Homo sapiens: one gene and its partners. The protein of the gene in region 2 interacts with the protein of the main gene of each other region in a pairwise test. Each region holds a gene or a part of one and is shown on either strand. Other genes may lie near its edges.

Region 1 (7,038 bases), about 15 Mb from region 2:
TTTTTCCCCCAATAACTGTCTCCAAGTACCTATTTGCTTTGCATGCTGATCTTCTTTTTTTTTTTTTTTGAGATGGAGTCTCACTCTGTTGCCCGGGTTCCAGTGATTCTCCTACCTCAGCCTCCCGAGTAGCTGGGATTACAGGTGCTAGCCACCACCCCGGCTAATTTTCATATTTTTAGTAGAGATGGGGTTTGATGTCGAACTCCTGACCTCAGGTGATCCACTCGCCTCAGCCTCCCAAAGTGCTGGGATTACAGGCGTGAGCTACTGCATCCATCCTGATCTTCTCCTTTGTCTCTCTCGATCTACTCTTTTTTCTGGGGGCAGGGGGCACTAAGTCTTGCTCTGTTGCCAGGCTGGAGTGCAACAGTGCAATGTCGGCTCACTGCAACCTCTGCCTCCTGGCTTCAAGCAATTCTCCTGCCTCAGCCTCCCAAGTAGCTGGGACTACAGGCATGTGCCACCATGCCCAGCTAATTTTTGTATTTTTAGTAGAGACCTGGTTTCACCCTTGTTGGCCAGGCAGATCTACTCTTGACTCTGCCACAGCAAGGTGGCCTTCCTGAATGGGCTCCCTTGCCCTCCGGCTTCTGCCAGGTCAGATGAATGTGAGGCCCTGCCATAAGGCCAGAAGTTGGAGTAGTTATTCTGCCAGCTTTCTTCCTTGCCTGTGCGCACTTTACATTGGCTGTGCCCCTCTGTCAGGGACTGTGCCTCCTGTCCAACTGCTTTCTCTGTGTTTCCAGTAGCTGCCCCCTCCTTGTGCCTCTTCAGGCCTGAGGTTGATAATGCCTCATCCTAGGGTGCTGCCCCATCCCTTTTTGGACCCCTTAATCTTGCCCACACCTTTGCAAACAGTACCTTCACTGAACTCCTCAGCTACCTCCTAGGATCCTGTTGCTACACCTTGCTTGTAGAATCAGATTTATTTTCAGAGAAAAAGTAAAGTCTGCTACAAACTTCAAAGACAGAAATGGTTAAGATGCTGGGCAGCCAGTGGCAGCTGGACATTGTGGAAATAGTGACGCAGTCCTCGTGCTTTTGTGAAGCTTCACAGCCTGATGAGGCAGCAAGGCAGACTTCGCTGTCTCCCTTTAAAGGTGTGACATTAGAACTTAGACCTGTTGTCTTAACTGAGACTGCAGAACTATCTGGTTTTAGAAACAGGGCCAGCTCTTCCCTGAGCTCTGTGAAATTTGGAATTCCTTATGCATTTGAGGAACTTCAAACTCTATTTGGTGTCTCAAATTTTGCTTCCTTCCTCCTATAGCCTAGCTGTATTCTAACATGTAGCACACTGTGCCGACAAGTCTCTTTTTCTTAATGTTTGATGTACTGTAACCTAAGTTTGATGTACTATAACCTAAATTCAGTCTTCCTGTTGATTCCATAAATGTGTTTAGTGTGAATTCTTTGCTTTTATGCATTTGGGTTAGTTCCTGGGGAATGGAAGGAAAAGCACTTTGTTATGTTTTGTTTTTAATCTAGACAGTATGCCAGAAATCTGAAAGAAAAACAAATCACCTCAAGTTTCATGATCTAACAAATCAAGTTGTTGTCATTTTTGTGTCCTTTTTGGTCTTTATTCATATATAATTTTATATGATAAGACAATTTTTTAAAATTAATTACAGACTACTTGTAAGAACTGAGCAAGAGCCTGGTTCATTATTCTGCATTTGGATCAAAGGGCAAAGTATAAGTGTCAATTTAGTGTATGTACATGTTTCAGTTAGCTGAATTATTGGAGAAGGGTCTGGAAATTATCAGTTGGATACATATAGAATAATATTTTAGGAATATGATACAGCAAAACTAAAAATGTGATTGGCTCCTCAAAAGAATGTTCCATATGAAAAATGGTAATGTTTAGGACTGTTCCTGTCACTATTTATCTTCATTTCTCATGATGTTCGTTGGTCTTTAGCTTCTCTGGGGTGTAGTTATAAAGGTTTTCTCCCGTGTCATAATGATCATGAAAAGAGAATACAATAGCTATATGCATATAGTAGTTTTTCTTTCTTTTTACCTGTCCTTCCACTTGGGGGTGACAAGTTACCTGTCTAAGGAGTATTTGTGTTTTGGGACGAGCTGGTTAACCAAAATCAATCTCTGATTGGTGGGCCATATAGAACGATATTTTGACTTGGCAGCCCTGATAGAAAGTAAAACAATACAGAGCTGCCTGAGGGTGCGCTCTCCACTTTGACTCTGTCTCCAGTTTGGGAAGGCCTTGTACCTCCCAGGGCTCTGGAAAAGCAGAGCTCACTGCTTAAGGAACAGACTATGTTGACACGGCATATGAGCAATATTTGAAATCACTGAATATATACATGATAAGAGAATTTAACAAGTGTTTTGGCATTTTATGTGCTTTTATGTTATTTTCTGTCTTTTATATTATATATGCTTTCCTTTTTTTTTTTTTTTGAGACTGAGTCTTGCTCTGTCGCCAGGCTGGAGTGCAGTGACACAATCTCTGCTCACCGCAGCCTCGGCCTCCTTGGTTCAAGCAATTCTCCTGCCTCAGCCTCCCAAGTAGCCGGGACTCCAGGTGCACGCCACGACGCCCAGCTAATTTTTGTATTTTTAGTGGAGACAGGGTTTCACCATGTTTTCCAGGATGGTCTTGATCTCTTGACCTTGTGATCCACCCACCTCCAAAGTGCTGGGATTGCAGGCATGAGCCACCGCACCCGGCCATTATATAGGCTTTCATTGTGTTTTTCATGTTAACAATGTAAAATATTCTTACACTTAAGCTTATAAATTAAATGTGCTAAAGATTTCTTGCCTGGGCTGTTAGGATGCCTTTGGCTAACATCAGAAATGCAAAAGGAAGAACAAGGTTTGCAAAAGGGAGGGATTTTGTTTGGGTCATGTTTTATCTGTGCCTATATAACTTGTTCCTTCAGCCAGTTTGTGAGGTCCTTGAGGGCAGCTAATCTGATTTTTCTTTCCTCTTATCTCTGAGTGTCCATTGCTATGCAAACTCTAAATAATGGGGGGAAAGCTTAAGTGCAGACTTGAACTTGAAACAGGAGTTTCAGTGCCTGATGGTATTTTTGCACTGTTATCTCCATGTATTAATTAATGACAAAGGAAGAGTTAGAAGTTATGTATTTAGTTCATTCTCTTATGTTGCTTACTTCTGTTCTACAAATGTTTCTGTTATGTCTGAAGAAGGGGAATTCCTCAAAGAAAGAAATTAGCAAGTTCACTTTTTGAGGTCATTATTTTAGTCTATTAGTTCATTAGTTTGGGGTATTACATTGTAAAGTGATGTCATCTGTAACCTAGTGCTATTTAAAGATGCACTGAGCAGAGTAGCTATAATAAAAAATATCATCGCTTAAAAATCTCAGTAACAATCCAGAATTTGCCTGTTTATAAGACTTATTTGGGCACTCTGACTTTTAAAAGTTAGGAGATGTGACTTTTCTTGATTTTTGAATTTATTTTTACCATCAACTGCCAATAAATTTTCCTCCATCTATAGGTCTGAGGATATGGCTTAATGAGTAAAACTCACTGGGTAGTTGTTACCCATCACCATAATTTTTGTTGTAAGTAGTTTACTTCTGTGTATTCTCTCAGGTATCCCAAGTAGATACCATCTGTGAGTGCTTACTGGAGCATGAGGAGCAAGTCTTGAGGGATGCACCTATGGATTCCATTGAATGGGCTGAAGTGGTGATCAATGTGAACAATATTCTCAAGGTACAAAAATATAGTAAAGGCTTCAGCAAATCAAAGCCCAGGGCATGGATAGACAAGGAACTGGTTTCCATGTTCCTACTCTGTATTGCCGATAATGTATAAGGTTGTAGACATTTGTTAATCCCAAAAAAGTTAGAAAAATGTCATTTTATTATTAATCAGCTAATGAGTATTTTGAATGTTAGCCTGGTGCCTATTAATAAATTTCTATAATCTTGAGTTTCTATTTGGTAGAATAATAAACCTTTCATTTGGGAAGATGTGTTTGTATCTTTGCAATTTTTTAGTTGGTTTTTTTTCTGAGAGAAGGTCTCACTGTCACCCAAGCTGGAGTGCAGTGGCACCATCATAGCTCACTGTAACCTTGAACTCTGGGCTCACGACTTCCTCCTGCCTCAACCTCCAAGAGTGTTGGGATTACAGAACTGAGACACCATGCCTGATTGCAAACGTATTGTTAATGTAACTGTCTAAATATTTCTCATTTCTATTTTTTTAATTACTCAAAACCTTGCTACTTTTACTATTGACTAAAACGTTCCATTTAATTTTAGCTAGTGGACTTGTAGTAATGATTTTCCTACTTTGCCAAATAATTTTCCTACTATTATTTGCCAAAACTGAAGTTAAATTATGGAGTAAAACAAATTTCAAAAGCAGAAAGAACCAAAAAGTAATCATGCAGATCTGTGCTGACTTTTTTCTCTCATTTTCTTTTCTTTTCTTTTTTTTTTTTTTTTTGTGAGACATGGTCTCACTCCATTGCCCAGGCTGGGTTTATAGTGGCTTGATTATAGCTCACTGCAGCCTCCACCTCCTGGGCTCAAGCAGTCCTCCTGCCTCAGTCTCCCAAGTAGCTGGGACGGTAGGTGCACGCCACGATGCCCAGGTAATTTTAAAAATTTTTTGTACAGATGGGGTCTCACTATGTTGTCAGGCTAGGAGCAATCCTCCTACCTCAGCCTCCCAAAGCACTGGGATTACAGGTGTGAGCCAACATTCCTGGCCCCTGAGTATTTTTTCTTACTAATTTACTTTGCTGTCTTAAATTATCTTCAGAAATACTGTGATCCATCACCTTTTGCATGTGATAACACATTAACTTTTTTTCCAGGATATGCTGCAGGCTGCTAGTCATTATCGCCAAAATAGAAACTCTTTGTATAGAAGAGAAGAATCACTAGAAAAAGAACCTGAATATGTTCCATGGACGGGTAATATACTGATTTATTAACAGTTGTTCAAAATATATTTCTAATGACCCATCATTTTTAGAAGTTGTGTTATTCCCCTAGCGTAGGTTTGTAAGTGAAATGAAAAAGTGCCGTCTCCAAAATGAGCAGCTCTTGTCAAAATCACTTTATTCGTCCCTTGCTCTTATTTATCGATCTCTCTATAATTTATGTATTCAACTGGTACTTATGCATTTACTAGGTTTTAGTTCAAATAGTTATTCATAGAAGCAGTCCTGGCCCCGGAGGTATGGACTATATTTTATGTTGATTTAATACAAGAAAGTAAGTGGAGTAGCATTAAAGGAATTTAGAAGGAAGAAGAGTCATGTTTACCTGGCTTTGCTGAGGAAATCTCCTTGGAGAAGATGGGATTCAAGCAGGGCATTGACAGGTATCACCTGAATCCCTGTTCAATGTAATTTTCCAGCAGTGATGAAGAGGCATAATTTTTATGCTATTAGTCTTTCCTTTAGCCATCACTAGATCCCTTACTTTAACCATATTATTTTGTGTAATTTCACAGCAACAAGTGGTCCTGGTGGCATCCGAACGGTAATAATACGCCAGCATGAGATTGTCCTGAAGGTGGCTTATCCACAGGCAGACAGCAACCTCCGAAACATCGTGACCGAGCAGCTGGTAGCCCTGATCGATTGCTTCCTGGATGGTTATGTTTCTCAGCTTAAGTCTGTGGATAAATCCAGTAATCGGGAAAGATATGACAATCTGGAGATGGAATACCTACAGAAAAGATCAGATCTCTTATCTCCTCTTCGTAAGTTCATGATACTTGGCAAGAGTTTTAAATTTGCTGAATGGATGAAAGGGTTGAATAGTTAATTCAGTATATTCAGTGTGGTAGTGTTAATCCAACTGTAATAAAGAACTTAAAGCAAATATGCACAGCTTTCTGTGCTCATTTATTCAACTTTTTTTCCAGTACTATCTAGGTATAAGTACCATAGATGATACTGAAGACAATTAATAAATACATAAACAAACAACATGTGGAGACTACCCTTAAAGAGCTTAGCATCACAGACCTTTACGTGAATAACTGGATTGCAAAGTAGAGCCTGGTGAGGGCTGCTTGAGGGGTACAGATAAGATATTATGGCTGTTTGGCAAAGGACACATTATACTCCAGGCTAGGACTGGGAAGAGTTTGCTTTACTCTTACATGAAGGAAGAGAATAGCGTTTTGGGGAGGCAGTGATGAAACAAGGGTCTGAATTTGCATCTTTTTTTTTTGTTGAGACAGAGCGTCACTCTCTCGCCCAGGCTGTAGTGCAGTGGTATAATCTCAGCTCACTGCAACCTCCATCTCCCGGGTTCAAACAATTCTCCTGCCTCAGCCTCCCAGGTAGCTGGGATTACAGGCGTGTGCCACCACAACTGGCTAATTTTGTATTTTTGGTAGGGATGGGGTTTCACCATATTGGCCTGGCGGGACTCGAACTCCTGACCTCAGGTGATCCACCCGCCTCAGCCTCCCAAAGTGCTGGGATTACAGGTGTGAGCCACCGCACCTGGCCTGAATTTGCATCTTTAAGAAATTGATGTGAATTGTGAAACTAAGTGCCAGTAAGTGGGAAGGTTTCCATTCCATTAATGATTGTTGGTTTATAATAGGAATAAAGATAAAATTTCAAGTAACATTTTTTATTACAGATTTTAAGTTTTGCTAACAGGATTTTTTCCCATCTTTTCTCATTCCCACAGTTTCACTAGGCCAGTACCTGTGGGCTGCTTCTCTAGCAGAGAAATACTGTGACTTTGATATATTGGTACAAATGTGTGAGCAGACTGACAACCAGAGCCGACTCCAGCGCTACATGACCCAGTTTGCTGATCAGGTGATGAGTGTTGGGTGTGTGGCCACTGAGTCCTTTAGTTGCCTTTTCTTGAAATGGCTTTGCCATTTCAAATCTGTAATCAGGGCTTTTGGAATATGATACGATCTTTTTGTAGTTAACTTTGATGAGAAGATACTAATTTGTATGTCGCGTTTCTTTGTAAATTTTGTCCAGTAGCGAGATCACAGTTCACGACAGCCTCAACCTCCTGGGTCCAATCACTT
Region 2 (2,915 bases):
AAGTAGCTTAATATTATTGAAGCATTATCCAACAACAGAGGCCACCTTGCGAAGGACAACTTTTAAATATAAATGATGGTGCTTATCGGAATTTGTGCATCAATTTGGACTGAAAGCCAAGAACAAATGATCTTTTACTAGCGCATGCCCTGGGAAACTTTTTTACCCTGATTCAAGGATGTAAGAACTTGTTCAAATGTTTTTGGATCTGACATGGCTTATAATGCCTGCATGCTTTCAAAACTATATCATCATCAAGTGAGCTGGGAAATACCACATACTTGTATCCTTGATGATGTGGTTTAATGGGGACACAGAATGTAGGAGGCACTGGGCTGGACGTCTTATATTCCCATATACTCCTTATGACCCGTATTCCAAATTGTGTCTTTTAATACAACTAAAGATGCTAAGATCATTTGTTTAAAGATCTGTATCATTTGTTCAAACATTTTCACGTGTATAAGAGGCTGTTGTAATTAGCAAGAAATAGTACCAATATTCGAATGCCTTTACACTTAGGAATCATTCTTACAGAAAACGAAGGCGACTATTTTATTAGAAAACAAAGGCTATATGTTAATCCATCACCAGATACGACAATGCTTACCAAAGAACTGTAAAAAATTGGTCTAAAAACAGAAAAAAGCACAACGACAGACGCATGGTATAGCACACCTCTAGGAAGCCTGCAGCCCTCACTGGAAATAAACACATACCCACACACACATATGTACAGGTTTCATAAGCAAAGATGTCTAAAACAGATTGTAAGAGAAAGATAAACACTCCTACATGTATATGTGTGCACATTTTCCTTAAAAACACATAACATGCTTTTCCTTCATTTTACTCAGCTCTGAGAAATTCCCGATACAAAACTATTCCATGCCTCATACTACAGATAGAATATCATAAAGCAAAAGTCTACATTTTCCTAGGAGCTGTTAATTAGAAGAATAAAATGTGTTTTGCATTTTTTTAGTGTAAAACCCACATACAAACAGAGATTGTGATATAGTGCTTGTCATTTTAATTGTAACATATTACCAAAAAGCTTTATATACATAGCTTTATACTATTTACATTGCAGTAGAGGAATGGCAATGCTAACAGGTGATCAGTGCTTCCAAACTTTTTCAATACCTACACATGGGAGATCTAAAGAGTACAATATATTTAAGACTTCTAAGGAATTGTTTTCTCCTCACTAATAAAGCATGCCCTGACTAAAGAGAAGTCCTGTAGGCACAGCCTTATCTATTCAATGACTGGCACCTCCCAGGGGTACTGACACACAAAGTGCCTTCACTGGACCTTACAGTTCTCACTGCCGTTGGACTCCAGTCCAGCTTTGGGGCTGGGGACAAGTCGGCCTCGCTTGACCCTCAGGCCCTCTCTGGGGCTGTCAGTCGGACTTCTCTCAGGAAGATTATTGACTGGGACGGATTTCGTGGTGGGTTCTCGGAGGATGGTGCCTGAATCTACTGGGCTCCGCTGAGCAACTTTGACCTGCAACACAAACATCTCTGTTAGAGGTTCAATCACATTCACATTTCCACAACATGAAAAATAAAGCACTATGTCACTAAGTTTTAAATTAAGTTCTTCTTCTCTAGGAGTTATATATAATTGAAGTATTTCCTCTTCCTTGAGAACAGGCCCCATCTAACAGAGAACTTAGGAGGATACCAGGTACAACCTCTAACCAGTCATCAGACGTCCCTTGGCACCTCTGATGGCAAAGACTATGCCCTATTTACCTATGTATCCCTAGAGCCCACAACATGCTTGACCACATGGTACACATCCAGTGAATTCCTAAGTGAAAAACCTGCCTCTGTTGTCCTAACTAGCCATTCCTGTTGTTTAAAACAAGTGTAACCCAAATGAGTAATACTACCTCCACAGGGTGGAAAATTTTAAAATGACCAAGGACCAGTTCAGGGTATTTTAATCATTCTCCCTTTATGGCTGACTGTTTCCATATTGAATTTGGACTAGAGCAGAAGGGCAGCTATCTAACAATAAAGTCCGGAAAGAATAAATCCCCTCTCAAACATCCTGCCTTTTAAAGGAAAGAGATATCTCAGAAAATTTGAGACTTTAAGTAGATGAGAGAGTAAGGTAACTGGTGAGTGAAGATTTTTTGAAATTGGGTCAGGCTTAGTGGCTCACATCTATAGTTCCAGCTACTCAGGAGGCTGAGGCAAGAGGATCGCTTGAGCCCAGGAGTTTGAAGCTGCAGTGAGCCGTGATAGTGCCACTGCACTCCAGCCTGGGGGACAGAGCAAGATTTAAAAAAAAAAAAATTGAAATTTATATAGTAGTGAAAAAAGATACACGGTCAAAAAAGAGAAAAAAGTGCAAGAAAAATGAAGTATAGGAAAGCTTCACCTAAGCAAAGTTAAAGGCAAGAGTGGAAGATTCAAGTAGGAAGATCTTTCAAAGAGAAAGGAGAAGGGCCTCTTGCATAATGGACACAAGGATCTGTGTCCAGCACAGTTGCTGGGAAGTAACTACGTGACAGACACTCCCTGAGCAACTGACTTCCAGGGATCTCCTTCTGATGCAAGAAGAAAAGGGAATGGAAATTATTTTCCCATTTATATTCTTTCCATAGGAAGCATGTGATTTGAAAAAGGCAGTTAAATACTTTTCATTACATGAAACATAGTAAATCTGGCCAACAGATCAAATCCCAGGAAAGCTCACTTCTCCCTCAGAGTGTGTCCAGGACACTGAAAAGACGCAGCCTTGGAAGGTCAGGACTTAATGGAAAATTACCATCCATGGAAAGTTGAAGGAAAAAAATAAAACAAAGTTTTGCTGGTACTTTTTTTTTTTTTTAAAGAGAAATAGTGATTCCAAAGACAAGGTTTCCCTGGAACCCACCAGATGTACAAGAAACAAAT
Region 3 (6,838 bases), on a different chromosome or scaffold from region 2:
AATGTATGTAAAACAAACTAAGAAACCCCTTGGTTCTACTGTTGACAAAATAATGAACACAAAAATATAAAAGCATCGTTACAGAAATAATGAAAAGTGAAGTACCATAAAGCTGGGAGAACACCAACTCTAGGCTCAAACTCTAGGCTCAAAATAAAACCCTCTCAAAAGATGTTCTTATTTTAATAAAAATGCTAATTTGAAACCAACTAACTCGGTTGCCTATTCTGGCTTTCTGCTTCCCTTCTTTTTTTACCTACATCCACTTTCTACTGTTCCTTTATAATCACTGATAGTTAAATGGTTAGGTGGAGCTAACCATTCTGATAACATTTTCTTGTTCCTTAATGCCTACTTTTTGTTGAGAGTATTATTGTTGCAGAATTCAAGAGAAAGAATAAAAGAACTTTAAGCTTTATAAAGTAAGTTGTGGAGATAAAAGTGAATCTATGCTATGCCTTTCTTCTTTCCCCATGGATAATCAAACAATAACTGTAAATCTACTTCCTTTCATCTTTACAAGAGAAATACACTAAGACTGGTACCCAGTTTTTACTAGTTTTACCTGTACGTACTAGAAATCCAGTTAAGTTACTTACCTTCTTAATTTTTTGGAAAATGTCATGAATTGCCCTGGGTATAACTCCCAAATGATCTTCTGAACCCATCATGGTATATGTTTTTCCTGAAGCAGTCTGTCCATAGGCAAATATAGTACCTGCAAAAAACAAAACACACATACGCAAAGATTAAAAACAAACCTATAATGGGTAAAACTATGCATGCTTGTTGCACAGACGCCCAAGACTAAAATGTTTCTGCAGCATTGAGTGAATACAAACCATTGTAGCCTTGTATGGCAGAATCGATGATTGGTGCTGCTATTTCTTCATACACATTTTTGGTAGTTTCATTACCATGAAAGACACGATCTAAACAACAACAACAACAACAACAACACAGAAGTTAAATCAAATGAGTCCACTGTGTTTTCATTCCAAATTAGTAATTATTCCCAAAAGTAAAACTGTCAGAATGTAGGATGATCAACTATTTAAGACACAGTATTTTTTTCAACTTTTTGGTTCTCTGAAAATACCCTTCCCTAAGGTAAAATGAGTTCATTTTCACACACAAAAAATACACTACAAGTCAACTTTTCTATGTTCTTTCAAGAGGCAATAAGGTATAGTGTTTGCACATGGGGGTCTGGAATCTACCTAGATGCAAATTAGATAACTGTGATTATAACTGTTTTAAATGCCAATTGGTTACCTTACTTAAATACATGATGGATAAACAATTTTGTTTCCAGTGAAGCAGTTTATAGAAGGCTTAGTCTAATCTTTAGTGACAAATCTAATATTATTGATAAGCCTTTTGTACTTTTAATAGCAAAAGGATAACAAGGTAACTTTTGATGCTATTATAAGCTTACCAAAATTGAAGGATTTACTTCCATCAACTTGATAAATGACATTATTGTCAGTTTTCCAGTAAACTTGGGCAGTTTCTCCAAGTGATTCTTCTCTAAAAGAATAAAAACACCGCATTTTAACCAGTCATAAAAGTCATGTCATAGGAGGAATAATTGAAAAGATTTCACCTGCTAAAGAATATTTTGAAAGATAGTAACATAAGAGAATGACAGAAAGTCCATCTTTGAGGATTCAACTCTTAAATGGAGCTTCAGTGACCTTCTGCCGCCTCAAAAGTGTTTTCTTGTGAAGGCTTTCATTCTCACCCTCTCCCCCAGTACTGGTAAACAAAGGGATGGATTCAAAATGCAACTCTGATTATGTCTGTCTTGCTTAAAATTCTTAAAACCTTTTGGAAACTTATGAAATCCTCAGCAGGGCACGAGTCCTAGATCATGTCATTTCTCTCTTCCATTTTCCTCTGAATTCCTAGATACATCCTAAGCTCTACCTGAAGGTCTTCCCCAAATGACAGATGTAACCTCTCTGTGCCTGGAATACTCTGACTTCCCTTTCCATTAAGTAACATAGGGATTATTTCACTCATGAAAAGCGTCAAGACTTTTCTGACACCAGTTCACCCCACGGGAAGCTTTCGTCTCTGATGGGCTAATAACTCCTCTAGCAAACATTCTCTACCTGCCCATCATAACACTTGTCAAAAGGTATCCTAATGGTTTCTTTATGTAGCCGTTTAAGGCATTAGATAATGAGCTCCTCAAAAATAGGAAATTCCTGATCTTGGTATTTGCATTTATTAAACCCCGTGTTCAATAAAAATTTCTCACACACACAAAGTGTTAGCATTTCGGGTCGAGGGCCAGAAGCTAGTGAAGCAAACCGATTTCATTTATTCCTCTTCCTGCTTTTTCTCCCTAGCACTTATTACCTACATATCACCACTTAACATCCTACATTTTCAACTTTACTTTCTGTCTCGTCCCATTAGAATGGAAGAGCCACTGGGCAATGACGGGAGTGTCTGTGTTGTACAAAGTCACTAAAAAAAAATTGATAAATATTTGTAGAATGATCTTGAGTGACGATTGAATGTAATGTGACAAGACAGACTAGCCCTTGTCTTCAGAGGGTCTGGAGACAGCAGTTAGGTGTAAAATGACTAACTGTGATGAGGGCCAGGAAGGCACGGTCCCATACGACTTCTCTAGGCGGGGAATGGGGCAGGGAGGAGCAGATGCCGCAAGGCAGAGCAGCACAGAAGGGAAGGTCTGTATGTCAGCGAGACTGAGTTAAATTTAAGTGAATCTCGCAGCTGGAAAGTATCTTCTAGATCTCCGATCCTCCCCTGTCACTTTACAGACCCTGAAACGATGGCCAGCAGCCGAGTCACTAGACAGCAGAGCCGGGAAGCAGCGGCTCCTGGAAACATCGTAGGCCTCGCCCCTCCGGCTCAGGGCGGCGCCGCAGGCCCAGCGGGCACCGGGCCGTGGTGTGGCCCCCCTACCTGCTGTTCAGCGGCCGCACTCGCACGCAGACGGCCACGGCTCCTTCCTCCGCCATCCTATCAGGCTGAACTGGTCCCAGGAAAATGGCCAGGACCCTCCGCGGCCGGCACTTCAGGGCTCACAGGCCGCCCCGCCTTTAAATTTAAAATTTCCCAAACGCCGCATCTGATTGAGCCGTGGCCTCGTGACGTCATGGGCCATTCCACGTGCGGAGCAGCGCGGGGGACGCAAGGCGGGCGGCGTGACCACTGCTAAACAGGAGAGGGGATTTAAAGGGCCCAGCAGAGAGTCGGAGGAGAGGGCCGAAGGGAGGGGCTCCCAGGAGTGGGCAGAGAGTGGTGGTCCTGGAATACCAGAATACTATTATCTGCCAAAAGCTAGCGAACGTCATCCTCCACCCCATCCTTAAAAAGTTTGGAACCTGTAGACGAAACTAGGTAGAGATACATGTATTTTTCACTACCCAAACAGAATTGCCGTCTTTTAAAGAAACTGCACCAACAGTTTAAAATAAACTTTCAACAGCAAGAGTTGAAATTCGCTGTCCAGTCCAGAAACGTGACAAGCCTGTTGTGCGCCTTAGAAAATCTGAGTTTAGGCTTTTCTCCTGTTTCTCTCTCTCTGTAACTCGTTTCCATTAGCTGTGGCTTCCTCAGAGGTTGAATTAGGGAAAATAAATACCGAGGACTGAAAAACTCATTGAGTAATGGGTTGATACTTTTTTTTTCTTCTTTTTTTTGGAAACGGAGTCTCGCTCTGTCACCCCAGGCTGGAGTGCAGTGGTGCTTATCTCTGCTCATTGCAGCCTCCACCTCCTGCATTCAAGTGATTCTCCTGCCTCAGCCTCCCCAGTAGCTGGGATTACAAGGTGCCCGCCACCACGCCCAGGTAATTTTTGTATTTTTAGTAGAGACGGGGCTTCGCCATGTTGGCAAGGCTGGTCTCAAAGTCCTGACCTCAGGTGATCCACTTGCCTCGGTCTCCAAAAGTGCTGGGATTAAAGGCGTGAGCCACCGCTCCTGGCCTGGTTTGTTACTTTTATTAACTAAGAGGGAAAGCTATTCTAAATACAGTGATTTTTTCCCAAAAATAATGCTTATTTTCCCTTTCTTCTCTCTCTCTCTTTTTTTTTTTTTTTTTTTTTTAAATAAACATGAGTTCTTGCTTTGTCACCTAGGCTAGAGTGCAGTAGGCTGAACACAGCTCACTGCAGGCTCAACTCCTGGCCTCAGCCCAAGTGGGGTTCCCACCTTAACCTCCTGAGTAGCTTGGATTACAGGCACATCACAAGCCCAGATAATTTTTAAATTTTTTTGTAGAGACGGGGTGGTGGGGGGATTAGGGTAGGGAGTGGGGTCTCACAGTGTTGCCTAGGCAGGTCTTGAACTCCTAGGCTCAAGCAATCCTCCTTGCCTTGGCCTCCCAAAGTGCTGGGATTACAAGCATGAGCCATCGTGCCTGGCCTAGCTTTTTATGTGTACTTTAGAAAGCTATCCAAGATGTTTCATTTATTAAGAGAAATTCAAGGTGCACGGTTATGTACACAGAATATGTCTGGATATACATACATAATTTTTGGAAAGATACACAGAATATGCCTAATTTCCTTGCAGAGTGAGGACTGAGTTAGATGGTAGACTGAGTTAGATGAAAGTAGTTTCTTTCAATTTAAAGAAACTAGTTTATAGATAAGAACAGTAAAGAAAAATGAGTCTATTCATTCAAGATTTGTTTTGGTTAACTAGCTGTGAGGTAGTATAAACAACTCTTTTTTATTGCTAGACTGTAAAGATACTTGGTTGTATCTAGTAAGAAAATACAGAGTTAAGGAAGGTATATTTTAACTGTTGTTTTTGTTTTAATTGTGGGCAAATATGAGACAGCTGAAGGCAAGGAACCTATGAAGAAGAAGGGAGATGTGATTAATCAAAATTTCTAATGAGACAAGAGGAGATTGGTTCACGAGTAAAGAGAAGTCATCAGCCTTTCATAGTTGTGCTTATGATCGTTGCTATGACTGTCTTTTTTTATCATCACAGCAGGTGACATTTATTGAAGATTTACTATATGCCAGGCTCTCTATTATATGCTCTCTATCCAATTTTTTCATCTGACTTTCCAAATTGTTCATCAAGAAATATTCATTGAACAACTGTTATGTGCCAGATACGGTTCTAAGGTCAGGAAGCACAACAGTAAATAGAATAGACACAGTACCTGTTGTTGTAGAGTTGCTATTCTCTTAGAGGAGATGGGTAATACAGAAAAATCTCAGTCTCTCTCTCTCTCTCTCTACACACACACACACACACACACACACACACACACACACACACACATAATGTAATGATTAATAGGATCAGGAGACAGAGAGAGAGTGATAAGGTGGGTTAAGAGTGCTAGTTTCTTATGAAACACATTCTTGTGGGAAGCAGCAGACAATACATAACAAATATATAGTAAAATAATGTGTTGGGAGGAAGGTTTATTTTAGATGAGATGTTCAAGAAAGACCTGAGGAGGTGACCTTTGAAGTGAAACCTATGTGAGAAGAGTGAGCCAGACTTGGGAGGACAAGAGAAAGGGCGTACCAGACAGAGGAACAAGTAAGTCAAAGAAGCCAAGGCTTGATCGAGTTTGTCATCTGTCTGAGACACAAAGGGGAGGGCCCTGTGACTGAAGCATTTGTGGCAATGGAGAGAGGTAGGCAGGTCCAGGTCCAGGACCCATGGGGCCTTGTGGGCTGTGATAAAATGTTTGGATCTTATTCTCAAGGGTGAGGGGAAGCCTATGGAGGGTTTTAAGCAAGGGGGTAAAAAGGGATTCATTAATTCCTTCAAACAAGACACTCTTTATTTCACTATGAAAATAGAAGCTTCCAGAAAAGACTTTGCCCTAATTCCTGTCAATCTGGCTACTCACTATGTGCATTTGTGCTTGCATACTCGCCTTCCAGACTGTAACTTTATAAACATCTGTGTGTTTTCCACTCTGGAAACTCTCCATGTGTGCACTGGATACAGTCCTCTCCTTCTCACTCTCTGTCCTGCTTGTCATTTTCTCCTGCTCTAGAAAACCAGTCTTAACAGCAAACATATGCCTTAATTCCTCCCATATTGAGTGTCTAATATATATGGCAAACTTAAAATGTCTAATACCAAATTCATGCTCTTCCCCTCAAAATCTGCTCAATCAGCAGTTTTCTGCTTCTCAGTTGTTGGCAAGTCCATCCTTCCAGTTATCCAGGTGCAGACTCTGGAGCCATGCTGCTCAGCTTCTCACCTGAAAATTCTGTCAGGGCCACCTTGAGAAAATTTCAGACTATGAAAAGTTTGTCACAACTTACGCTTCAGCTACCTGGTCCGAAATATCATCATCTGGCACTGAGCTAATCTCAGTGTTTCCACCCTTGCCCACCCCCACTGCCAGTCTGTTCTCAACACAGCAATTTGAATGATTCTGTGAAAATGTGTCAGATCATGTCACTCCTCTCTCAAGACCCCCAGTGCCACACCTTCACCCCCACCCTCTGATTTCTCTCAGAACAAAACCCAACGTCTTTCAGTTGTCTCCCAAGCCTCACATGATCTTGCCCTTTGTTTGTGCTCTGGCCTTACCTCCTACCACTGTCCCTCCCCTTTGCTCTCCCCACTCCAGCCACACGGGCCATGGGCAGTTTCCTGAATCCCAGACAAACCCCCTCTTGAGACCTTTGCACTGGCTGCTGTGTCTGGATGGAAGGCTTTCACTCCAGATATACATGTTTCCCTCCTTCCCATTGATTCCAGTGTTTACTCAAATGTCACCCTCTCATAGCTCTCTCTCTATAAAACACCAACTCCATTGTATGTTACTTCTATTTCTTAAATCTTCTTCTTAAATTAGTTACAAGAT

What was found. Proteins that work in one complex are often made in the same cells at the same time.
Region 1: the proteins of CENPF (region 2) and NUP133 interact in a two-hybrid assay, tested with the Homo sapiens proteins (one study listed by IntAct).
Region 3: the proteins of CENPF (region 2) and CENPE interact in a two-hybrid assay, tested with the Homo sapiens proteins (one study listed by IntAct).

Annotation. Positions count from the first base shown.
Region 1 is NC_000001.11:229,463,319-229,470,356, reverse strand, and holds part of NUP133 (nuclear pore complex protein Nup133), read left to right. Parts: intron 1-3,600; coding exon 3,601-3,723; intron 3,724-4,837; coding exon 4,838-4,937; intron 4,938-5,481; coding exon 5,482-5,733; intron 5,734-6,680; coding exon 6,681-6,814; intron 6,815-7,038. UniProt on the Homo sapiens protein: Involved in poly(A)+ RNA transport. Involved in nephrogenesis.
Region 2 is NC_000001.11:214,662,188-214,665,102, reverse strand, and holds the end of CENPF (centromere protein F), read right to left. Parts: intron 1,513-2,915; coding exon 1,309-1,512; 3' UTR 532-1,308; downstream 1-531. UniProt on the Homo sapiens protein: Required for kinetochore function and chromosome segregation in mitosis. Required for kinetochore localization of dynein, LIS1, NDE1 and NDEL1.
Region 3 is NC_000004.12:103,195,321-103,202,158, forward strand, and holds the start of CENPE (centromere-associated protein E isoform 1 precursor), read right to left. Parts: upstream 3,024-6,838; 5' UTR 3,000-3,023; coding exon 2,944-2,999; intron 1,531-2,943; coding exon 1,439-1,530; intron 933-1,438; coding exon 843-932; intron 719-842; coding exon 600-718; intron 1-599. UniProt on the Homo sapiens protein: Microtubule plus-end-directed kinetochore motor which plays an important role in chromosome congression, microtubule-kinetochore conjugation and spindle assembly checkpoint activation.